Linked DNA regions of Homo sapiens. The protein of the gene in region 1 interacts with the protein of each later gene in a biochemical or structural test. Each region holds a gene or a part of one and is shown on either strand. Other genes may lie near its edges.

Evidence for each region.
Region 2: the proteins of SCAP (region 1) and SEC24B form a complex in vitro, tested with the Homo sapiens proteins (one study listed by BioGRID).

What each region holds. Positions count from the first base shown.
Region 1 is NC_000003.12:47,464,005-47,476,724, reverse strand, and holds the start of SCAP (sterol regulatory element-binding protein cleavage-activating protein), read left to right. Parts: upstream 1-783; 5' UTR 784-926; exon of another isoform or gene 927-1,302; intron 1,303-5,209; exon of another isoform or gene 5,210-8,672; intron 8,673-10,276; exon of another isoform or gene 10,277-10,376; intron 10,377-12,720. UniProt on the Homo sapiens protein: Escort protein required for cholesterol as well as lipid homeostasis.
Region 2 is NC_000004.12:109,452,922-109,465,641, forward strand, and holds part of SEC24B (protein transport protein Sec24B), read left to right. Parts: intron 1-9,979; coding exon 9,980-10,723; intron 10,724-12,720. UniProt on the Homo sapiens protein: Component of the coat protein complex II (COPII) which promotes the formation of transport vesicles from the endoplasmic reticulum (ER).

The DNA.
Region 1 (12,720 bases):
GAGGCCCTGTAACAAGACCTACCTCGGATTTTCAGGAGGGCCAAATGCGAGGACATGTACAATACCAGCTCCGCAACTGACACCTAGTAAACAGTGAACGTAGCTGTTGCTATTATAACAAATACCTGTTCCCTGTGGAAAATGGTTAAATGTCAACTTATGCTTTTAAATGTCTATAGGGAAACTAGTTTTATGGACATTATTTATTCTTCTCATCTGCATTTGCAGTGTATCTCGGCCCAGCTGCTTCTAATTTTTTGCCATTATAAAACAGGGAACATGAGCATCTTGTGCAGGGTGGGTTTTTTGTTTTTTGTCTCACTGTGGCCTCGACCTCCCGGGCTCAGGTGATCCTCCTACCTCAGCCTCCTGAGTAGCTGGGACCACAGGTGCGCGCCACCACAGCCGGCTAATTAATTTTACTTGTGGAGACGGAGGTCTCCTACGTTGCCCAAGTTGGTCTCTAACTCCTCGGCTCAAGCGATCTTCGCGCCTTGGACTCCCACAGTGTTGGGATTACAACCGCGAGCCACCGTGCCCGGCTTTCTGCAAGTTCTTGATGACCGATGAGAGCCGGTGGGCCCAAACCCGGCGGGCCCTAACCCGGCTTCACGCTCCGCCCGGCCCGGCCCGGCCCGGCCGTCCATACTTCCCTCCGGTGTCCACCAGAGGGCGAACGGGAGACGCGAATGTGGTTCGACTACGCATGCGCACGCCGCTGGGCGCACGTGCGGAGGGCGGCGGGGCGGGAGGGTAAAGGTAGGAGGTGAGAGGTGAAGGGGCGGGCACCCGGCGGCCAGGAGAGAGAGGGAGGGCGCCACGCACCGGACTGCGGGCCGAGAGCGCGCACGCCGCGCTCCGCCCCTGCTGCCGCCCCCGTCGCCGCCGCCGCCGCCGCCGCAGCTTGGGAGGTGCTGCCACCACAGGTACCGTCACGCGGGTGCTCAGGGCGCCTGCCCGCGGGCCCCAGCTCGACCCCAGCCGCGTGGAGCTGGGAGTTCCGGAATGGGGGCCGCTAGGTTCGGGGGTGCGTGGGCATGGCGCTGTCCAGCAGCCGTGCGGGCCGGCCCTGGAGACCGCAGGCCGGCAAGGAGGCAGGGCCGCGCGTCCCCACCCCCAACCCGGCCGTGTCCCTGCACCGGCCGGCCCCTGGAGCTCCGCGTCCCCACCAGACCTCCGCGGGCCCCTGGTGTGACGGGGGGAGATGCGCGGCGTCGCATCCCCTGGCCTAGTTGCTCCGGGAAGCTGTTGTAGAACCTGCTTTGGTGCTGTTTGGGTTTTCCGGAGTGCGGGGGAGAGCAGGTTCTCCACTTTGCCTCTTTTGGAAGATCTTATTGAGAGACAACGCTAGTTGCTTTGCTGGTTTTGCTTGGTTTCTAGTTTTCCGTATTGCTTAAACCTCAACTTTGCTCACTAATGTTGCTTCTGTTTACTTCTGAGTGGGTTTATGACCTCAGTATTTAACCGGCTTATAATGTCACGATAGCGTTAGTTGCAGGGAGCCCTGGCTCCGGACTGTTTGAATCACAGAAAGTTGTGCAGATGGGAATGCGGAGGGGGGGGCAGTGAGTCGCTGTGGGGGCTCTGGCAGGGGTCAGCCCCTGGTTCGGGTCACTCACTGCTCCACCTTGTATGGCGACAGTCGGAGCTAGGTGAATAAACTCTTTCTGGGGATTTTGTAATACTTATCGTGAAGCGGCCATAGAAAAGGTTTAATGTTAGCGTTGCGTGTGTTTCTTTTATTTGGCCAAAAATTTGTGGAGTTTGGTTATGCCGTGTCTTTATTGGTTTGCTGTCAGGTCAGGATATTGAGCAAAAGACTGACGCTTTTATTAGGGAGTCAGGGTCGAGGGTGTCTAGTTAGTGCTGTATCCATTTTAGGTGTTCCTCAGTGATGCCTAAAGACTTGTTTTTTGTTTGTTTGTTTGGAGACAGGGTCTCACTCTGTCTCCCAGGCTGGAGTGCAGTGGCGCGATCTCGGCTCACTGCAGCCTTGATTTCCTGGGCTCAGGTGATCCTCCCACCTCAGCCTCCCCAGTAGCTGGGACAGCAGGTGTGTGCCACCACGCCCGGCTAATTTTTGTATTTTTTTGTAGAGATGGGGGTCTTGCTGTGTTGCCCAGGCTGGTCTTTAACTCCTGGGCTCAAGCATTATACAAGCCTTGGCCTCCCAAAGTGTTGGTATTACAGGCGTGAACCACCGTGCCCGGCCAAGACCTGTATCTTTTAAAATGTGTGTTAATATAGTTTACATTTTAGGTGTTTTACACATTTGCAGTATTCCCACTGAGCACATGATGTAAAAAACACTATATAAATATATTTAACACTGTATAAATATATTTCCATATTTATTCTTTTGGTCATAAATTGAAATGGAAAGAATTAGGCTTTTTAAATTTATTATGAACTGATCTGATGTTTGAATGCTCTCTCTTTTCTTTCTTTCTTTTTTTTTTTGAGATGGAGTCTCGCTCTGTCGCCCAGGCTGGAGTGCAGTGGCGCCATCTCGGCTCACTGCACCCTCCGCCTGCCGGGTTCAAGCGATTCTCCTGCCTCAGCCTCCCAAGTAGCTGGGACTACAGGCGCCCGCCACCATGCCCGGCTACTTTTTTGTATTTTTAGTAGAGACGGGGTTTCACCGTGTTAGCCAGGATCGTCTCTATCTCCTGACCTCATGATCCGTCCGCTTCGGCCTCCCAAAGTGCTGGGATTACAGGCGTGAGCCACCGCGCCTGGCTTGAATGCTCTCTCTTTTCTTTTGCTGTTGCGGCAAAAACGCCCCCTCTCTAGAGATCTCCGTGGACTTTATAATCACTGGTTTGGGGCCCTTCCCCCGTTCCCTCAGTCACTGTCATTAGGTGGGTAAAAAGTTTACTACAAGTTTATTACTAGAAAAATGGAGGCATATGCGATTCAGGAATTAAATAAACTAAAAAAGGAAAGAAAAAGTGTGCCTGTGGGCTTCACTGCAGGTATGTATATTAACATTTGGTGGTAGACTTTAGGGATGTTTTCTCTCTCAGAATCTAGCCATGCATGTGAATGTGCCTCAGGGATCCTGGAATGACAGGTTCATGTGCTGTTTGCTTACTCTCACCATTGGTGGTTGCCAGTGTTTTACCGGCTCTGACAGGTACTTCATATACAGTTTGTGTCATCACCCCCGTTGAACAGATGAGAGGACTCCTCATAGAGAAGCTGGGTTCTTACAAGGTCACCCAGCTTGTCAAGGGTGGATCATCCTTCAAACCAGGTCTGCCACACCTCTGCCACCTGAGCTCCTTCCGTTAGAACTTGCTACCTTACTGAGTTGGCTAAAGAAACAAGGTTCAGGTGTCGTCTTTTGCCACTCAGAGTAATAATTCTGGGTGATATCGAGCACTTGTGCTGTTTAGGCAGTGTCCTAGGTACTGTAATATTAGCTTATCTCACTTAGTTTTCATAATAACCAGGTGAGATAACACTGTTATCACCCCCTTTACGGAGAGTTTTAGAAAAGTTATTTGACTGGCCCTGGGTCACCTAGCGAATTTGAGACGGAGTGTGTTGTGTGCAAACTGAGATTTGGCTGACAAAAGAGTCCATCCTTTTATGCTGTTCTTGTACCTGCTTCCACAGTCTGTTTTTTTTTTTTTTTTTTTGAGATGGAGTTTCGCTCTTCTTGCCCAGGCTGGAGTGCAATGGCGTGATCTCAGCTCACTGCAACCTCCGCCTCCCAGGTTCAAGCGATTCTCCTGCCTCAGCCTCCTGAGTAGCTGGGATTACAGGCATGCACTACCACGCCTGGCTAATTTTGTATTTTTAGTAGAGGCGAGGTTTCTCCCTATTGGTCAGGCTGGTCTCAGACTCCCGATCTCAGGTGATCCGCCCGCCTCGGCCTCCCAAAGTGCTGGGATTACAGGCGTGAGCCACTGCACGCAGCCCACAGTCTTTTCTGTTGCTCATTGGCAGGTAAGGGTAGTGGAAGAAGGTGGTAGGGGTGGTGGGAGGAAGCCAGCGTCACTGACTCTAGTGTGGGGATGGTGGAACTCAGCAAGAAGGTGACAGCAATTTGACCACTGCCATTTGACAGTTTCTGCTTAAGCAGTCAAGGGCACTAACCTAGAATGGTTGCAGGGATGCTAAATCATAAGGAAGCTTTGCAGTGGGGTCCAAAGTTGGTATGTAAGCATAAAGATGCACGTGGATCTCAGGAAAAAAATAAAACTAATTTTCCTGTTTATTTCAGCTTCATTTAATTATTATTATTATTATTATTATTTTATTTTATTTTTTTTTTTTGAGACGGAGTCTCGCTCTGTCGCCCAGGCCGGACTGCGGACTGCAGTGGCGCAATCTCGGCTCACTGCAAGCTCCGCTTCCCGGGTTTACGCCATTCTCCTGCCTCAGCCTCCCGAGTAGCTGGGACTACAGGCGCCCGCCACCGCGCCCGGCTAATTTTTTTGTATTTTTAGTAGAGACGGGGTTTCACCTTGTTAGCCAGGATGGTCTCGATCTCCTGACCTCATGATCCACTCGCCTCGGCCTCCCAAAGTGCTGGGATTACAGGCGTGAGCCACCGCGCCCGGCCCCATTTAATTATTATTATTATTTTTTTGAGATGGAGTCTCACTCAATCTGTTGCCCAGGCTGGAGTGCATTGATGCTATCTTGGTTTACTGCAATCTTGGTCTCCTGCCTCAGCCTCCCGAGTAGCTGGGATTACAGCTGTGCACCACCACACCTGGCTAATTTTGTATTTTTAGTAGAGATGGGGTTTCACCATATTGGTTAGGCTGGTCTCAAACTCCTGGCCTCAAGTGATCCACCCACCTTAACCTCCCAAAGTGCTGGGATTACAGGCATGAACCACCATAATAATTTTTATTATGTACTTTATAATGTACACTGTATTATCACTGTAGTACATATATAATTTATATGTAAGTGTACATGTATTGGGAGCATATACTTGAATTTTTGTTGTTGGGCATTCATGATCAAAACATTTGGGAACCAGTGGCTTATTTGATATTTAGCATTTTCAGAAAGCATAAAATATACAAGGTGTTGGCCAGGCACAGTGGCTCATGCCTGTAATCTCAGCACTTTGGGAGGCTGAGGAGGGTGGATCACCTGAGGTCAGGAGTTCGAGACCAGCCTGACCAACATGTGTGAAACCCCGTCTCCACTATAAATACAAAAGTTAGCCAGGTGTGGTGGCATGCGCCTGTAGTATACCTCTAAGTATACTAGAACTATGTTGATGTTTTCCTCTCTCTGCCTTGGCCACTAGGAAGCTCAGAGTCAAGTTTGTATCCAGGGTCTTCCAGCTTGTGCTTAAGTGTTTTAATCGTCTAGATTGTTTTTAATGGTTTCTGCTCTTTGTCTCAGGTTTTACTATAAAATACATAACACATTTCCTTCCCGTTCTAAATATTACTGTGATTGTATTCTTATAGCCAAATCTTTGTTCTTATTCTTATTTTATTTTATTTTTTATACTGTTGAATCCCTCTGAGCCTTGCCTTTCCCTGCCTCCTCTTCTGTACTCATTTTTGCTAAAATTTGTAAGGGGATAAATTCTTGAAAAGCTTTGCACATTTTGAAGACTTGTTTGTTTTTTAATATTTATTATAGTAAAACTCAAATATACATCCAAATAGAGAGCAATAAGCCCTTGTGTACCTATCACTCAGTTATGTCTGTCACTTAGTCATTAACTTGGGGACACTCTTGTTTCATCTATATCCTTTAATCCTCATTATACTTTTTTTTGGGGGGAGAAGTTTATTAATTGATAGGTGTTACTTTGGGGTAAATGAGGAGGGAGCCCACTAGTATGCTGGGGAACTGGTAAGGTTTTTTTGTTTTTTTCTTGAAACAGAGTCTTGCTCTTGTCGCCCAGGCTGGAGTGCAGTGGTGCGATCTCGGCTCACTGCAACCTTCGCCCCCCTGGGTTCAAGCGACTCTCCTGCCTCAGCCTCCCAAGTAGCTGGGATTACAGGCACCTGCCACCACACCTGGCTAGTTTTTGTACTTTTAGTAGATGGGATTTCACCATGTTGGCCAGGCTAGTCTTGAACTCCTGACCTCCGGTGATCTGCCTGCCTCGGCCTCCCAAAGTGTTGGGATTATAGGCGTGAGCCACTGCGCCCCGCAAAGGTTCTTTTCTTTGGGATCCTTTCCTGTCCTTAGAGAAGACCCTTTAGCTTTCTGCCTGAGGAGCTGATGCCTAGTTGTCAGGCTTTCTTCTTGCCCAGATAAGGGTGTTAACTCCTGTGTACAGATGTTCACTTAATCCTTTTTACCAGTCCCACATCTCACTATAGCCCTATGCTACACCTGGGTTTCTCCATCCCAAGCCCCTTTAGGGTCTCTAGTGCCAGTCTTCTTCCTCATTGGCTATGTCCCCTAGGTTCTTTTTTATTTTTCCCAACGGTGATGCACTTACTGAGCAGATGCAGTAATCTTCTTACCTGAGCCTACATATAACCATTGGCCTAAATGTATGATGGTTTGCCAGCATCAGCAATAAGACTGGTAATGGGGTAAAAAACAAGTTCTCTTAAGGCTAGCTCTTGATCCCCTGTTGTAAGCTGACCAACTTAATCTGAAAATAATTTGCAGCATGTAAATATTTTAGGATTAGAGCCATCTGTATACACACTTAAAAGTAGTTTTGCTACCATTACATTAGTCTAAAAGAGTTACCTAAGAATGCCAAACGATATTTTGTTCGAATGCCTTGGTTATTTTAATTTAAAAGCATTTCTTTCAAAACCGCTTCTCTCTTCACAATAGTAGAGCTGTGGCAGTGAACTAAGAGGTCAAGGATTCAGTGAATCTGTGGCTAATTTCTTGTTCCAATCTGAGAGCTCTCTTTGCACTATGATCAAAATGGAGTCTTGCCAACTGCCCAGGGTAATAGCCTTGCAAGTCTCTTCCTTGTTGAGCAATGAATATAAGTTCCACATGGCTGGGGAGGCCTCACAATCATGGCAGAAGGTGAAAGAGGAGCAAAGGCATGTCTTACATGGTGGCAGGCAAGCCTCTTCTCATTATACTTTTAAAATTATTTGGTGGCTGGGTGCAGTGGCTCATGCCTGTAATCCCAGCACTTTGGGAGGCCAAGGTGGGTGGATCACTTGAGGTCAGAAGTTCAAGACCAGCTTGGCCAACATGGTGAAACCTTGCCTGTACTAAAAATACAAAAATTAGCAGGGTCATGGTGGCACGCACCTGTAATTCTAGCTACTTGGGAAGCTGAGGAAGAATTGTTTGGACCCAGAGGTAAAGGTTGCAGTGAGCCAGGATCGTGTCACAGCACTCCAGCCTGGGTGACCGAACAAGACTCTCAAAACAAACAAACAAAAATTATTTGGTGATTTTTTTTTTGAGACGGAGTCTCCTTGTCACTCAAGCTGGAATGCAACGGCGTGGTCTCTGCTCACCGCAACCTTTGCCTCCCGGTTCAAGCGATTCTTCTGTCTCAGCTTACCAAGTAGCTGGGACTACAGGCATGTGCCACCACACCCGGCTAATTTTTGTATTTTTTGTAGAGATAGGGTTTCACCATGTTGGCCAGGCTGGTCTTGAACTCCTGACCTCAAGTGATCTGCCCACCTTGGCATCCCCAAGTGCTGGGATTGCAGGTGTGAGCCAACGTGCCTGGCCCATTTTAACCATTTTTAAGTGTACTATTTAGTGACATTAAATGTATTCACATTGTTATGCAACCATCATCACTATCCATTTCCAGAATGTTTTCATTATTCTACATAGAAACTATCGATCCAGGAGCCATATGTAGAAAGCTGAAACTGGATCCCTTCCTTACACCTTATACAAAAATCAATTCAAGATGGATTAAAGACTTAAATGTTAGACCTAAAACCATAAAAACCCTAGAAGAAAACCTAGGCAATACCATTCAGGCCATAGGCATGGGCAAGGACTTCATGACTAAAACACCAAAAGCAATGGCAACAAAAGCCAAAATTGACAAATGGGATCTAATTAAACTAAAGAGCTTCTACACAGCAAAAGAAACTACCATCAGACTGAACAGGCAACCTACAGAGTGGGAGAAAATTTTTACAATCTACCCATCTGACAAAGGGCTAATATCCAGAATCTACAAAGAACTTAAACAGATTTACAAGAAAAAAATCAAACAACCCTATCAAAAAGTGGGTGAAGCATATGAACAGACACTTCTCAAAAGAAGACATTTATGCAGCCAACAGACACATGAAAAAATGCTTGTCGTCACTGGCCATCAGAGAAATGCAAATCAAAACCACAATGAGATACCCTCACACCAGTTAGAATGGGGATCATTAAAAAGTCAGGAAACAACAGGTGCTGGAGAGGATGTGGAGAAATAGGAACCCTTTTACACTGTTGGTGGGACTGTAAACTAGTTCAACCATTGTGGAAGACAGTGTGGCGATTCCTCAAGGATCTAGAACTAGAAATACCATTTGACCCAGCCATCCCATTACTGGGCATATACCCAAAGGATTATAAATCATGCTGCTATAAAGGCACATGCACACGTATGTTTATTACGGCACTATTCACAATAGCAAAGACTTGGAACCAACCCAAATGTCCATCAATGATAGACTGGATTAAGAAAATGTGGCACATATACACCATGGAATACTATGCAGCCATAAAAAAAGGTGAGTTCATGTCCTTTATAGGTACATGGATGAAGCTGGAAACCATCATTCTGAGCAAACTATCGCAAGGACAGAAAACCAAACACCGCATGTTCTCACTCATAGGTGGGAATTGAACAATGAGAACACCTGGACATGGGAACATCACTCACCAGGGCCTGCCGGGGGATGGGGGGAGGGGGGAGGGATAGCATTAGGAGATAAACCTAATGTAAATGACGAGTTAACGGGTGCAGCACACCAACATGGCACATGTATGCATATGTAACAAACCTGTATGTTGTGCACATGTACCCAAGGGCCAGTGGGTGGGAATTGGTATCTCATTGTGATTTCAATTTGTATTTTCTAAGGAATATTGATGTTGAGCAATTTTTCATATGTTGATTGGCCATTTGTATATCTTCTTTTTTGTTGTTGTTTGGGTTTTTTTTTCTTTTTCTTTTTCTTGAGACGGGGTCTTCTTGCTCTGTTGCCCAGACTGCAGTGGCGCAATCACAGTTGACTGCAGCCTCAAGCCTCTGGTCCCAAGTGATCCTCCCACCTCAGTCTTCCAAGTAGCTGGGACTGCAGGCATGTGCCCCCATGCCTGGCTTATATTCATATTTTTTGTGGAGATGGGGTTTCACCATGTTGCCTAGGCTGGCCTTGAACTCCTGAGCTCAAGTGACCCATCCACCTCAGCCTTCCAAAGTGGTGGGATTACAGGCATGAGCCACCCCACCGAGCCTGTATATCTTCTTTAGAGAAATGTTCATTCAAGTCCTTTTCTCACTTTGAGTTATTAATTGTTATTTTGTTGTTATTGTTGAGTTGTAGGAATTCTTTACAAATTCTGGATATTAAACCCTTGTTAGATATATGATTTGTGAATAGTTTCTCCCATTCTGTTGGTTAGCATTTCACTCTCTTTATTGTGTGATTTGCACAATTTTTAACTTTTTTTTTTTTTTCTTTTTTAAGACAGAGTCTCCCTCAGTCACCCAGGGTGGAGTGCAGTGCTACAGTGTTGGCTCATTGCAGCCTCCACTTCCTGGACTCAAGCAGTCCTCCCACCTCAGCCTCTCAAGTAGCTGAAACTACAGGTGCACACCACCATGCCTGGCTAATTTTTTTTGTATTTATTTTTTTTTAAGATATGGGGTCTTGCCATGTTGTCCAGGCTGGTCTCAAACTTCTGAGCTCAAGCAGTCCGCTTGCCTTGGCTTCCCAAAGTGCTAGGATTAAGGCGTGAGCCACCACGCCCGGCCAAAAGTTTTTAATTTTTATGAATTCCAGTTTATCAATTTTTTTCTTTTGTTGCCTATACTTTTCAATCCTTGCTAAACTCAGCATCATGAAGATCTTTTTCTTATATTTTCTTCTAAGGGCTTTACAGTTTTAGCTCTTCTTTTTTCATTTATTTGATCTATTTTGAGTTAATTTTTGTGTATAAGAGTCCAACTTCACTTTTGCGTGTAACTATCCAGTTTTCCCAGTAGCATTTGTTGAAGAGACTGTCCTTTCCCCAGTGACTGGTCATGGCATCTTTGTCAAAAATCAGTTGATTATATTTGTGAGAGTTTATTTTTGGGTTCTTTTTTCTTCTTCTTTTCTTTTTTTCAGGTTAGATGGGTAGTGCTGACATCATAACAAGGTTCAAGAATGACTCATCTCACATGTGTGTGAAACACCCAGGTATCATACTGATGAACTACAGAAGATCTGGGCTCTCTATTGTTTTATATGTCTGACCTTATGCCAGTACCACATTGTTCTGCTTACTGTAGCTTTATAGTAAGTTTTGAAATCAGGAAGTGTGAGTCCTCAACTTAGTTCTTGTTTTTCAAGTTTGTTTTGGCTATTCAGGGTTCCCACTTTTTTCTTTGGACAAAGTAATGGGGAGAATTTCTTTCTTTTTTTTTTTTTTTTTTTTTGGTTTTTAAGACAGTCTCACTCTGTTGTCAGGCTGGAGTGCAGTGACGCAATCTTGGCTCACTGCAAACTCCACCTCCTGGGTTCAAGCGATTCTCCTGCCTCAGCCTCCTGAGTAGTTGATATTACAGGCACCTGCCACCACGCCCAGCTAATTTTTGTATTTTTAGTAGAGACGGGGTTTCACCATGTTGGCCAAGATGGTCTCGATCTCTTGACCTCATGACCCACCTGCCTTGGCCTCCCAAAGTGGTGGGATTACAGGCGTGGGCCACTGCACCCAGCTTTTTTTTTTTTGTTTTTTTAAACAAGTAAATGGAAAGAAATCCCACGTTCATGGATTGGAAGACAATATTCTTTTTTTTTTTTTGAGACGGAGTCTTGCTCTGTCACCTAGGCTGGAATGCATTGGCGCAGTCACTGCTCACTACAGCCTTGAGCTCCCAGGCTCAAGTGATCCTCCCACCTCAGCCTGCTAAGTAGGTGGGACTACAGGAATGTACTACTGTGCCTGGCTAATTAAAAAATTTTTTGTAGAGATGGAGTCTCACTGTGTTGCCCAGGCTGGTCTTGAGGACTCCAGGGCTCAAGCAGTCCTCCCCACTTGACCTCCCAAAGTGCTGGGTTTACAGGCATGGGCCACCGTGCCTGGCCAGCTGTTAGAATTTTGATAGGGATTGCATTGCATTTTGATATGGATTGCGTTTGTAGATAGCTTTGGATAACGTTGTCATTTAAAGAATATTGTCTTCCCAGCCTGGCCAACATGGTGAAACCCTGTCTCTACTAACAATACAAAAATTATCCAGGTGTGGTGGCATACACCTGTAATCCCAGTTACTCAGGAGGCTGATACAGGAGAATCGCTTGAACCTGGGAGGCGGAGATTGCAGTGAACCGAGATTGTGCCACTGCACTCCAGCCTGGGTGACAGAGCAAGACTCTGTCTAAAAAAAAGAAAAAAAAAAAAGAATATCATCTTCCAATCCATGAAAGTGGGAAAGTGGGATTTCTTTCCCTTTATTTTACGTCTTTAATTTGTTTCAGCAATGTTTCAGTTTATGTCTTTTGTCTCCCTTGCTTAAATTTATTCCTAAGTATTTTATTCTTTTTGATGCTATTATAAATGGAATGTTTTCCTAATTTTGTTTTTAGATTGTTCACTGTCAGTGAACAATAGAAATGCAACTGATTTTTGCATGTTCATTTTGCATCCTACAACTTTGTTGAATTCATTTATTAGCTGTGTGTGTGTGTAATCTTTAGGGTTTTCTACATGTAAGATCATGTCATCTAGGAACGGAAATAATTTTACTACTTCCTGTCCAGTTGAGATGCCTGGAGAGAAAGGGTAAATGAGGCAGTGAGAAGGTTCTTGCTTAATTTCTCTGGCTAAAACTTTTCAGTACTGGATTAAATAGAAGTGGCATCCTTGTCTTGTTCCTGATTTTAGGGGAAAAGCTTTTAGTCTTTCACCATCAAGTGTGATGTAAGCTGTGAGATTTTCATATATACCCCTTTATTATGTTGAGGATATTGCCTTCTATTCCTATTTCATTGAGTATTTTTTAATCAAAAAGTTATCTTGAATTTTGTTAAATGCTTTTTCTGCATCAGTTGGGATGATCATTGTTTTTCTCCTTCATTCTAGTAATGTGGCATATTACCTTAATTGATTTTTGTTAAACCATCCTTGCACTTTGGGAATAAATTCCACTTGTCATCTGAGATGTATGTTTAATATCTACTTTAAAAAAAAAAACACAAATCAGTCCCAGCCTGGGCAACATAGTGAGACCCTCATCTCTACAAAAAATAAAAAAAGCCTGGTGCAGTGGCTCACGCCTGTAATCCCAGCACTTTGAGAGGCCGAGGCAGGCGGATCACCTGAGATCAGGAGTTCAAGACCAGCCTGACTAACATGGTGAAACCCCGTCTCTACTAAAAATAGAAAAATTAGCCAGGCTTAGTGGGAAGCGCCTGTAATCCCAGCTACTCAGGAGGCTAAGGCAGGAGAATTGCTTGAACCTGGGAGGCGGAGGTTGCAGTGAGCTGAGATCATGCCACTGTACTCCAGCCTGGGTGACAGAGCGAGACTCTGTCTCAAATAAATAAATATTAAAAAATAAAATAA
Region 2 (12,720 bases), on another chromosome or scaffold:
AATAATTCAACGTTATTTCACGTAGGTTCTTTTCTGTTTCCCTAAGTGTCAGCTGGTCTGAGAAATAAAGGGAAAGAGTACAAAAGAGAGAAATTTTAAAGCTGGGTATCTGGGGGAGACATCACATGTCGGCAGGTTCTGTGATGCCCCCTGAACCCTAAAACCAGCAAGTTTTTATTAGCAATTTTCAAAGGGGAGGGAGTGTACTAATAGGATGTGGGTCACAGAGATCCCATGCTTTAAGGGCAACAAAAGATCACAAGGCAGAAGATCAGGGTGAGATCTCAAGGTCAGGGCAAAACTAGAATCACTAATGAACTTCCATGTCCCGCTGTGCATGCATTGTCATTTATAAACATCTTAACATGGTTCAAGAGCAGAGAACCAGTCTGACTAGAATTCACCAGGCTGGAATTTCCTAATCCTAGCAAGCCTGGGGGTGCTGCTGGAGGCCAGGGCATGTTTCATCCCTTATCTGCAACTGCATAAGGCAGACATTCCTAGGGTGGCCATTTTAGGCCCCCCCCCCCCCCCCCCCGAATGGCTGTTAATTATTAATATTCCTTACTGGGGAAAGAATTCAGCGATATTTCTCTTACCCGTGTTCGGTAATAAGAGAAATATGGCTCTGCCTGCCTGGCCCACAGGCAGCCAGACTTTAAGGTTATCTCCCTTGTTCCTGAAAATCGCTGTTATCCTGTTCTTAAGGTGCCCAGATTTCATATTGTTTAAACACATATGCTCTACAAACAATTTGTGCAGTTAACGCAGTCATCACAGGGTCCTGAGGCGACATACATCCTCAGCTTACGAAGATGAAAGGATTAAGAGGGCATAGGAAATTAAGAGTATTGATTGCGGAAGTGATAAATGTCTATGAGATCTTCACAATTTATATTCTTCTGTCACGGCTTCAGCAGGTCCTGCCGTTCGGTATCCCTGACTTCCCGCAACAGACGGAGTTTCGCTCTTGTCCCCCAGGCTGGAGTGCAATGGCGTGATCTCAGCTCACTGCAACCTCCACCTCCTGGGTTCAAGTGATTCTCCTGCCTCAGCCTCCCAAATAGCTGGGATTACAGGCATGCGCCACCACACCCGTTTAATTTTTGTATTTTTAGTAGAGACAGGGTTTCTCCATGTTGCCCAGGCTGGTCTCGAACTCCTGACCTCAGGCACACCTGGCCAACTGTGTCTTATCTGTCTTTAATCCTTAGCTCCTTTCACAGAGCAAACTTTTTTTTTCATTTTGGTAAAGTCAAGTTTCTCAATATTTTATGTTGCTGACTATGCTTTGAGTATCATAGGTAATGTTGAGGCTCAGAAAATGAAACCTCAGGCTGGGTGCAGTAGCTCTCGCCTATAATCCCAGTACTTAGGGAGGCCGAGGCAGGAGGATTGCCTGAGCCCAGGAGTTCAAGACCAGCCTGGCCAACATGATGAAACCCTGTCTCTACTAAACATGCAAAAATTAGCCAGGTATGGTGGTGGGTGCCTGTATTCCCAACTACTAGGGAAAGTAAGGCAGGAGAATCACTTGAACCCTCAGGTGGAGATTGGGGTGAGCTGAGATCGCACCACTGCACTCCAGCCTGGGTGACAGAGCAAGATTCTGTCTCCAAAAAAAAAAAAAGAAAGAAAAATAAAACAAAACTCCAAAATGAAGGCCTCAGAAGTAGCCTCAGAAGCAAAAGTTTTTCTCTGACTTTCTGTTGCCTGCCTGTCTCTCAGTCCCGTTCTCCCCTGAGGCTAGCCTTAGAAACCAGATTCCCTCTTCCCCAAGGCAGGTCATAGAAACTGGAACCTTTTTTCCCCAAAGCAAGCCACAAAACCTAAAAATATTATTCTAACTTTCCCTCTGTCCTATGTGTAAAAACTGGCCTTAAAGAAATTATCTCACCTACATTGTTTGAATGTAGGTCATAAGACCCCTATTCCAGAGAGGGTCCTGCCCCATAAGCAGAAAGAAAGAATGTGTGCTCAGGCCAAGAAGAATCTAAACAGATAGGCCTTCCTGGGTTTCCCCATTCAGTCTGTTCACATTAGATTATAGCCTTTTTATCCAATTATACTTCTGCATGGCTGTCCGTACTTTGTTGAACCTAAGGATAAAAATGGACAGTTTCCTCTATCTTTGGGTCTACACGTTAAATAAATTTGTATGTCTTTTATCCTGTTAATCTGCCTTTTGCAAGTTGATTTTTCAGCACACCTTCAGAGGGCCAAGGGGAGCTGCCCCTTTGGCCTCTGTAGTAAGAATTCATTGTCAATCCCAGATTCCCTTCAAAAATCCATATTTTCTCTTAAGTGTTTAATTTACAATGAGATTTAGGATTCTTTTTTTTTTTGGGATGGAGTTTCACTTTTGTCGCCCAGGCTGGTGTGTGGTGGTGCGATCTTGGCTTACTCCAAGCTCCGCCTCCCAGGTTCAAGCGAGTCTCCTGCCTCAGCCCTCCCGAGTAGCTGAGATTTCAGGCATGCACCACCATGCCCGGCTAATTTTGTAGAGATGGGGTTTCACCATGTTGGCTAGGCTGGTCTCCAACCCCTGACCTCAGGTAATCCGCCCACCTAGGCCTCCCAAAATGCTGGGATTACAGGCATGAGCCACCACACCCGGCCTGTGATTCATTTTGACTTAATTTTTGTTTAAGACCAGAGGTATATGTTGAGGTTCTTTTCTTTTTTTCACATGTAGATATCTAGTTATTCCAGCACCATTTGTTGAAAGAACTATCTTTCCTCAATTGCATTGCCTTGGCACCTTTGTCAAAAATCAGTTGACTGTATTTTTATGGGTCTGTTTCTAGACTGTTGCATTCTGTGTATCTGTCCTTTCACCAATACCACACTTCTTAAATTGTTGTAACCTATAAAGTAAGCCTTAAAATTGGGTAATGTGAGTCTTCCAACTTTGTTCCTTTTCAGTTTTTCTTTGTTTTTAGTAACTTTGTATTACTATAGAAATTTTAGAATCCGCTTGTTGATATCTACAAAAAAAACCTGCTGGTGTTGTTTATTATGATTGCATTGAATCTAAAGATCAAAATTGAGATAAGTTACATCATAATATCAAGTCTTCTAATCCATGAACACAGTATGTCATTCCATTTCTTTAAATCCTTGCTTCTTTTCATCAGCGTTTTGTAGTTTTCTTTATATAGGTTCTGAACATATTTCATTAGATTTACATCTAAGTACTTCTTTTTGTGCTATTATAAATGATACTGTTTTTTAAAATCTTAATTCCCCTTGTTTACTACTGATCTTTAGAGACATAATTGATTCTTGTATATTGACCTTATATTCTATGACCTTGATAAACTCACTTATTAATTCCAGGCATTTTTTGGAAGATTTTTTTGGGATTTTCTACTTAGTCATGTCATTCTGCAAATAAAGACAGGTTTTTTTTGTTTTTTTTTTTTTTTTTTTACTCCTTTCCAGTCTATCTACTATTTATTTATTTTTCTTGCCTCACTGAAGGGGCTGTTACATCTTGTACATTATTGAATAGGAATGATGAGAGAGGACATCTTGCCTTCCATGTAATCAATGTTAGGACGAAAGCAGTCTGTCTGTCCCTTACCATTAAGTATGGTTTGCTATAGGTTTTTAGTAGATAGTCCTTATCAGGTTAAGAAAGTTTCTTTCTCTTCCTAGTTTATTGAGAGTTTTTATCATGAATGGATGCCAAGTTTTATCTAATGCATTTTCTGTATCTATTGATGTGATTATGTGGCTTTTTCTTAAGTCTGTTAATATGTTGAATCACATTGAATGTATTTCAAATGGTCAGTCAGCCTTGTATTCCTAATATGAACCCCATTTGGTCATAATGTATTTTACTTTCAATATATTGTTGTTTTCTATTTGCTGAAGTTTTGTTCAATGGTAGAGCTCACAGCTAAGTTAAACAAATACTTTTCCTGAAGATAACATTTATACTTCAGTGTGCAATAAAAGTGCTTTATGTTTCACAGAGACCATCATTTTTAATCTAATAAAATTATGTGTGAGTGCATGGTGGTGAAGAATATAGTAACTGCTAGTATTGCTTGGTGCCATTGCTTCAGTTTGTGCCCCAGGGTTCACATTGCAGCCATCATTGCTTTTGTATCATTAGTATAATTGTCAACACAGTGAAAAAGGCAAATATCATCTTAGTACTGTTATGAAAATAGTTTTTACTCATGGATTTTCCCCAAAGAGTTTCTGGCACTGCTGGAGTTTTGTATACTACACTTTGAGAATTTCTGTTCTATATCTTTATTAATGTCTTAGGACTGCTGAAACAAATGGCCACAAAGTAGGTAGCTTAAAACAACATAAATGTATTTTTCTGCAGTTATGAAGTCTAGAAGTCTGAAATTAAGGTGTTGGCAGGTCTACTTCTTAGTCCATTTTGTGCTACTATGACAGAATGCCTGAGACTGTCTAGTTTATAATGAACAGAAATTTACTTCTCACAATTCTGGAGGCTGGGAAATCCAAGATCAGGTGCCAGCACCTGGCTAGGGCCTTCTTGCTGTGTCATAACATGGCAGAAAACATCACGTGGCAGAAGGGCAAAGGTGAGGGCAGAGAAAAGGGGACCAAACTTGCCCTTTTATATCAATCTCACTTCTGTGATAGTGGCATTAATGCATTCATAAGGGCACAGCCTCTTAATACCGTTACAATGGCAATGAAATTTCAAGATGAGTTTTGGAGGAGCAAACATTTAAACCATAGCAGTCATGCTCCTTCTGTAGGCTCATAGGGGAGTAATATGTTCATTGACTCTTCCTACTTGTCTCACTGTTGGCATTCCTTGGCTTGTGGCTACATCACTCTGTGCTCCAACTTCACATTGCCTTCTCTCTGTTTATGTGTATGTCTTTTCTTCTGTATGTATATTTTATAAAGATACATGTGATTGCATTTAGAACCCACTCAAATAATCCAAGAGAGGCTCCTCTTCCCCAGATCTTTAACCTAAGCATGTCTTTTGTCATTTAAGGCAATAATCACACTTTTCCATGTAATTTTCACAGGATTGGGGGGATTAGGATGTGTACATAATCTTTTAGCGGGCCACTCTTTAGCCCACTACATGCTTTACTGATTATTACAAGTGTTAGACTGCTATGTGTTGTCCCACAGGTCTCTCGAATTTTGTTCATTTTTCTTCAGCCTTTTTTTTTTCTCTATGTTTCTTAGATCATTTTCTTAACCAATCTTCAAGGTTGGTCAACTTAATCAAGGTTCATTAAGTCTTCTGCCATACTGTAGAGACCATTTAGCATATTTATTTGTTTTATTTTGAATATTTTTTAAATAGTTTTCATTTCTCTCGATATCCCTTGTCTGTTCATTTACTGGTAACATTTTCCCCCAATTTTTGGAATATATTTTCTTTTCATTTTTGGAATAGATTTATAAAGACTTTGCAGTCTCTGCCAAATTTGGCTTCTGGGCCCACTTTGATTCTGATCTCTACCTCCCTTATTGCTGGGCATCCTGACATCTCCCACTTCTGCACAGTTAAGCTGCCAACTAGAGACTTGACCCAACAATTGCAACTGGTAGGAAGTTATTTTTAGTAAAGTGAATGAACACAAAAATTACCTACAGATCTATTTATTAGGTGGTTTATGTTAAAAAAATGAAAACCTAAATGGCAGATAGAAAATTGATTAAAATATGGTAAATTCATGTAATGGAATACTATTCAGACATTAAAAATAATGATGGAAAGATATTCAAATCATGCTAAATGAAGGAATCATTTAAAAGATACATTATAATCCCACTTTTGCTTAACTAAATTATACATATATATGCAAAAAGAAAATACTGGGTGGATATACATCAGAATGTTAGCAGGTTATCTCGGGAAGATTAAGATGATTTTTATTTGATCACTTTCTGTATTTTTTTTTTTTACAATGACTGTATCACATTTGTGATAAGAAAAGTACTTCTGAAGTTATTTTTCAGAAATTTTACTATATATGTAACAAATTTTTTTCCTCCACAACTTTTATGTCTATTTTAGAAGTATTAAAATACCAGCAGTCTTTTCATACATGCTGCAGAATCATTTTGAATCCCAAGAAAGATCACAGATGAATAATTACTACAAGAGTTTTTTATTCAGATAAGTTAAACATAATATATGTATATGTGTACATAATGCACTGTGTTGCTCTACTCTTCGAAAAAATAGTTCTTTCTTGGAATACAATATTTGGAGGCCATAGAGCTTAAATAAATGTGGAAGAAAACTGAAGCAGGTACACGAGAAAAGAATAGGGGGAAAACACTGAGGGCAGAAAATTTAATCTGTCATGAGAGGCAGAAACAACTGGAATCATAGACATATGCTGTAGACTTTCACCATCCAGTGTGGTGGCCACTAGCTGTACATGGCTGTTGAGTACTTGACATATGGTTGATCAGATTGAGAAGTGCTATAAGTGTAAAATACATAATGATTTTTGAAGAAATAGTACAAAAAAGCAAAATATCTCAGTAATTTAAAAATACTGAATACATGTTAAAAATGATTTACATTTGTCTTTATTAACTTTAATTACTTTCAGATACTTTTTTATACATTGGGAACATTTAGGTCTTGATATAAAGTATGAAATAGTAAGCATCCACATATGATTAGATATATTAGATATTCCCACCCCCCATGTTTTCCTGGAGTAAGTACCTTTCTTTGATAGGCTAGAAAGTAAATAGACTTATTCTGGTGGGCAACTCACTTCTGATAAATTTCAGCAGCTAGGACATTCCTGTTATTTTTAAAAGAATGACATTTGAATAGTTGGGACATAATGATTATTTCTCGTTTCAGATCATGTAGCATGGATATGCCAGATCAGTCACTAAGTGGGTAGATATTTGAACAGATTTCTCTAAATCTGACTTGGCTCTTCATTGATAAATTCTACTAGTGTAGAGTTTTCTGACACTACAGTGAAAGGTAGCAGATCCATCTTTTAATATATTTAAATAGGAGAAAGGAGGACAACATTTTACTTTTGTCGTGTTAATGAAAGATCCTAACAGACTTTATTTCCTTAAGTAAATAAATTCTTTCAGATGAATTATTACCATCTAAAATAATCTAAGAAAAGTAAATTATACACCTAGTAAAATAGCGTTATCAGTATTTTGGTTTTCTGTATACTTCTTGGAATTATAGGAGGAATGTAGATGATATTTTTCCCTTACAGCTTGACTGTGTAAGTTATTTTTATGCTGGCCGTAGAATATATATTACATGACCAGAAATGAAGATTCCATTACATTACTTAGTACAAATTGAAAACAATTAGAAAATGTATGCTTTATTCTTATCTCTTTTATAAACAAGTATTTTAATACATTATTATGGCAAGGAGTGTAGTGGTACTTCCTTTGTGTACTTGTGTCAGTGGAGCTAAAACATCTTGTCAATTTTCTATTAAATTATCCTTTGATTTGAGATATGGCACAGATACCTGTTTCCTTCCACAAGACAGAAAAATTAGATTCCAAGATAATTAAGATTTGCCCAAAACCCAAAGAAAAGTAATTGGAACTAAAACTAGAATTCTGTTTTTGGGACAATTGGCCATTTGTAGCAAAGGACAGCAGATCATTGGTTAAGAGCATAAACTTGAGCCAGATTGCCTGATTCAAATTCCGGCCCATTTAGTTCCTAAGCATGTAACTGTGTTAAACATCTTGACTTTTGTGGCTCACTTATTGATAAATGGGTATAATAATACTATTTACTTTAGAGGATTAAAGAAGTTAATATATGTAAAGCATTTAGAACAGTGAATGGCATATAATGTAATATATTAATATATTAATATTAATAAGACTAATATTAGGATTAATGTTTTGTTGGTATTAATAAAATAAATATATGCTATACTTATCAAAGATATATAAAGATGAAAGTATAAAACACTAGAGTAAAACATGGTTTTATAGTTTTATAATCTTGAAATGAAGAAACCTCTACTAAGTATGATTTAAAAATCTGTCAAGCATAAAAAAAGAATTTTACTACATAATCAAGAAACTATAGCAAAAGATACCATGAACAAAGTGAAAACATAACAGTAACCTGGGGGAAATACTTACAGCACATAACATTAGGCTAATTTTCTACTGTGTGAGAACAGCTAGAAATCATTAAGGAAATCGCAATGCTACAGAAAAAGCAAACAGCAGAGAAAGACACCCAAATGAGAGTCTCAGCATCATTCAAAGTTAACTACTGTAAACTAAAGTGTTTCTCACTTTTCAGATTGGCAGAGATTAATATATAGTCAGTATTGGGACAATGAGGCAATATGAAGCATTATTGATGGGAGGTATAAATTGATAGACCTTTTAAGAGATATTTGCCAATAATGTCAATTTTAAAAACATAAACCTTTTGAACTTCCAGTTTGACTTCTAGAAATTTGTCTTATAGCTTCATCATAAAAGTTGACCTCATAAATATAGATTAGTTCAACCCCAAGATATTCATCAATGGAGATTTGGTGAATAATGTTATATCTCTACAATAAAGTACTATATGTAAATTTTTAAAAGAATAATGAGGATTTATATATGCTAATACTTAAGGATATTCAGCATATATTAAGTAAAAGCAAGTTGCGGAACTGTAATATCCTTTTTGTGTGTTTAAAAAATCAAGTAAATTATATACATGCTTACATATGCATTACATAGATACATGGATATACAGAGGATGCATAAGCATTAACTGTAACTATATCTGGGAAATAGGATATAAGCTACTAGGCAGAGATTTTTAATTCATACTCTTTATTGTTTGAATTTTTTCTACAGTGGGTATATTGTTACTTTTCTAGTTAGGAAAAATAAAAACTGAGAAAAAAGTTTTAGCTGTGTGCAGTGGCTCATGCCTATAATCCCAGCATTTTGGGAGGTTGAGGGAGGAGAGTCACTTGACTCTAGGAGTTTAAGACCAGCCTGGGCACACAGTGAGACCCTGTCTCTACAAGAAAATAAATTTAGAAACATTGGCTGGGCCGTGGTGTATGGGAGACCAGCCTGGGCAACACAGTGAGAGCCTGTCTCTGTAAAAAATAAATAAGTAAAAATTAGCTGGTCACCATGGTGCACGCCTGTGGTCCCAGCTGCTCGGGAGGCTGAGGTGAGAAGATTGCTTGAGCCCAGGAGAACAAGGCTGTAGTGAACCATGATCATGCCATCGCGCTCTATAGCCATCACACTCTATAGAGCCTGGGGTCAGAGCGAGACCCTGTCTCAAAGTTTAAACTTCTTCCAGGATGGGTATATTAGTTACTGATAGCTGCATAACAAAATACCCCCTAAGCTTAACAACTTGTAAAACAACAACTATTTATTTCACAGTTTCTCAGGAAGATAAACTTGGGAGCAGCCTAGCTAGGTGGTTCTGGCTCAGGGTCTCTCATGAGATAACCTGTTGGCTGGGCTATAGTTATCTCAAGATTCTACTGAGTTTGGAGGATCTGCCTGAAAGCTCAGTCGTGGTTGTTGGCAGATCTTAGTTTCTCTTTGGCTGTTGGCCAGAGAGTTAAGTTCCTCCTTGCATGGGCTTCTTCATAGGGCTGTTCACGGCTTGGCAGGTTAGCTTCTTTCAGACTGGGGTATCTGAGAGAAAGAGAGCCAGAGCTCAAGACTGGGCTAACATGGAAGTGACATATCATCACCTTTGCCGTATGCTACTGTTCATACAGACCAGTCCTGGTACATTGTGAGGGAGGACTACAAGGGTGTGAATAACAGGAGGTGGGGATCATTGGGGGCCATGTTGGAGGCAGGCTACCATAATGGGTCTATAACAGTGTATACCTTTTGTAATAAGTTGGGATTATGGAAAAGAAAGTTAATTGCTTCAATATTTAAATGGGGGCTATTTTTAAAAATTAGTTATCTCTTTACAAATACCTGTAAATACTTGCTTTTTCAGGTCCAGCCCAGAATCAAATGCAGGTTCCATCTGGATATGGATTGCATCATCAAAACTATATTGCTCCCTCAGGACATTACTCTCAAGGACCTGGGAAAATGACCTCATTGCCATTGGATACCCAGTGTGGTGATTACTACTCTGCTCTCTATACAGTACCAACACAAAATGTGACTCCTAACACAGTGAACCAGCAACCAGGAGCACAGCAGTTGTACAGCAGGGGTCCTCCTGCCCCTCATATTGTGGGATCCACTCTAGGATCTTTCCAAGGTGCTGCATCGTCAGCATCCCATTTGCATACGAGTGCCTCCCAACCATACTCCTCTTTTGTGAATCACTACAATAGTCCAGCCATGTACTCTGCCAGCTCTTCTGTTGCGTCTCAGGGATTTCCCTCTACTTGTGGTCATTATGCTATGTCAACTGTTTCTAATGCCGCGTATCCTAGTGTTTCATATCCCTCTCTGCCTGCTGGTGATACATATGGGCAAATGTTTACCTCACAGAATGCTCCGACTGTTAGGCCAGTTAAAGATAATTCATTCTCTGGTCAAAATACAGCTATCAGCCATCCATCGCCACTTCCACCTCTACCATCACAACAGCACCACCAGCAGCAAAGTCTTTCAGGATACAGTACTCTAACGTGGTCATCTCCAGGCCTTCCATCGACTCAAGACAATCTCATCCGAAACCACACAGGATCCCTGGCTGTAGCGAACAACAACCCAACCATTACTGGTAGGTTGAATGAAAAGTTCACCAAAACATGTTTGAAAATCAGTGCATTCCCAATTAAGTTATTATTTACATGAAGGTTAGAGGTGATATTGCCTAATAGAAAAACTGGAAGTTTGCTAATTTATTGTGGCTTTTTGTAGCACCTCTTTGAACCCTTTCTTCTCATCCATTCCCAATTAGCCACCCAACCATCTGCCTTGTCTAGCTTGGTTCCTTGCCATGATCAGTCAACATTTATTGATATATTTTATACATCTGCAATAGTTGTCTTTAATGTGAATTAGATACAGGGCAAAATGGAAGGGTCTGTTTTGAGGATATGTTGGCCACTATTTTCTCTTTTATACTAGTTCAACCTTGGGACAGTTGTTTTTTTAGCCAGAGCCCCACTTACTTAGAAAAAAGGATGGTTTGCAGCAGTGCACTGGTTTCCCCAAGTTAGCCCCTATTAGTGACTTTTGCAGAAGACATCTTTCCTGCACGTAAACAGTGTTTCTCATTTTCAGATTAGTAAGTTAGGCTGAAAGATGGGGAAGGGAAAGGAAGATGCATGAAGAATACCCTGGTATTCAGCCCTTCTGACCTTCCTAAACCAAGGTGTTGTTAAATTTTTTCATTTAAAAATTATGTATGTAAGACGTGGCTTGCCCTTTTTTTTTTTTTTTGACACAGGGTCTCACTTTATCACCCAGGCTGGGCATGATCTCAGCTCACGGCAGCCTTGACCTCCTGGGCTCAAGCGATCCTCCCATCTCAGCCCCACAAGTAGCTGGGACTACCAGGCATACGCCACCACACCCAGCTAATTTTGTAGAGATGGGGTTTTGCCATGTTGCCCAAGCTGGTCTCGAACACGCGAGCTACTGTGCCTGGCCCAATGTGGCTTTTTAAGTGCAGTGTTTCCTTTCCCTAGGATATATTCATTTTAATTCAATTTGTGACTTGAATTTAACAGAATCTGCTTTTGAACCGAATGAAAATGCATGTAAAAAATGGGAATTGGTAAAGCTGTGGTAACTTTTGGAATGATGCCTTTAGATTGTGTATCATTATCTGGATAGCCATGTGTCAAAGATGCTGTGGAAAGATATCCTTCTCTGGACAATGAGATTATTTAAAATTAGAACTTTAATATTAGACCCAAGCTGTACATTTGAGATCATCTACTCTTTCATTGCTATGTCGTTTAGAAATGCTTTCAGATACAAGCAGCTAATAGTAGTTTAAACAAAAAGGGGGTATTTTCCTCACATCACAAGTCTAGGTGGATGCAGTGGATCCCGCTGTTCTTGGTATCCTTTTTTCTCTTTCCACTCTGCCACCTGCAGCATGTAGGTTATAGAAACAAGATACTTCTGTACCTATAGACATTAAGTCAGAATTAAAAGCACCAAGAAGGGAGAGGAAAGGGGACTGGTTAGTGGCATTGACAGACTTCATTTTACAGATCATTTGCCATAGCTGTTTAAAAGACCATTCCTAGCTTCAGGGAAGGCTGGAAAATGAATATTGAATCTTTTTTTTAGCATCCATAGTAGAGGCGAACAAGAAAAAAGGGAGTTAGCACTGACTTGGGTGAGTCAACTCAAAGTGTCTGTCACAGTTCCGAAATCTGGCTGTCTACCAGAATCACTGGCACAGATTGTGATATTCAACTACAAATTACTGAGCTAGAATAGAATCTCCAGGGTACTCTTGAGAATCTATTTCTAACTGGATCTTCAGTGATGCTGTGAAACACATCTAAATTTTACTGTAGTCCTTTTGTTTTACAAATGAAGAAAGTTATCCAAGTTGAATTGCCTGTGGTCATTAATGGTAGAAACAGAGCTTGGCCTAGAGGTCAGTTTCTTCTGTCTCCCTCAGAACCAGGGCTTTCTGTCCTCTAGAAATTGTTTTCCTCTCTCTTCTTTCAACATTCTATTTACAGATCCACTTATCCTAAAGTCCTTCCAACTTAAGGATTTTGTGACTTTCATGACAAAGGAAATACAAGT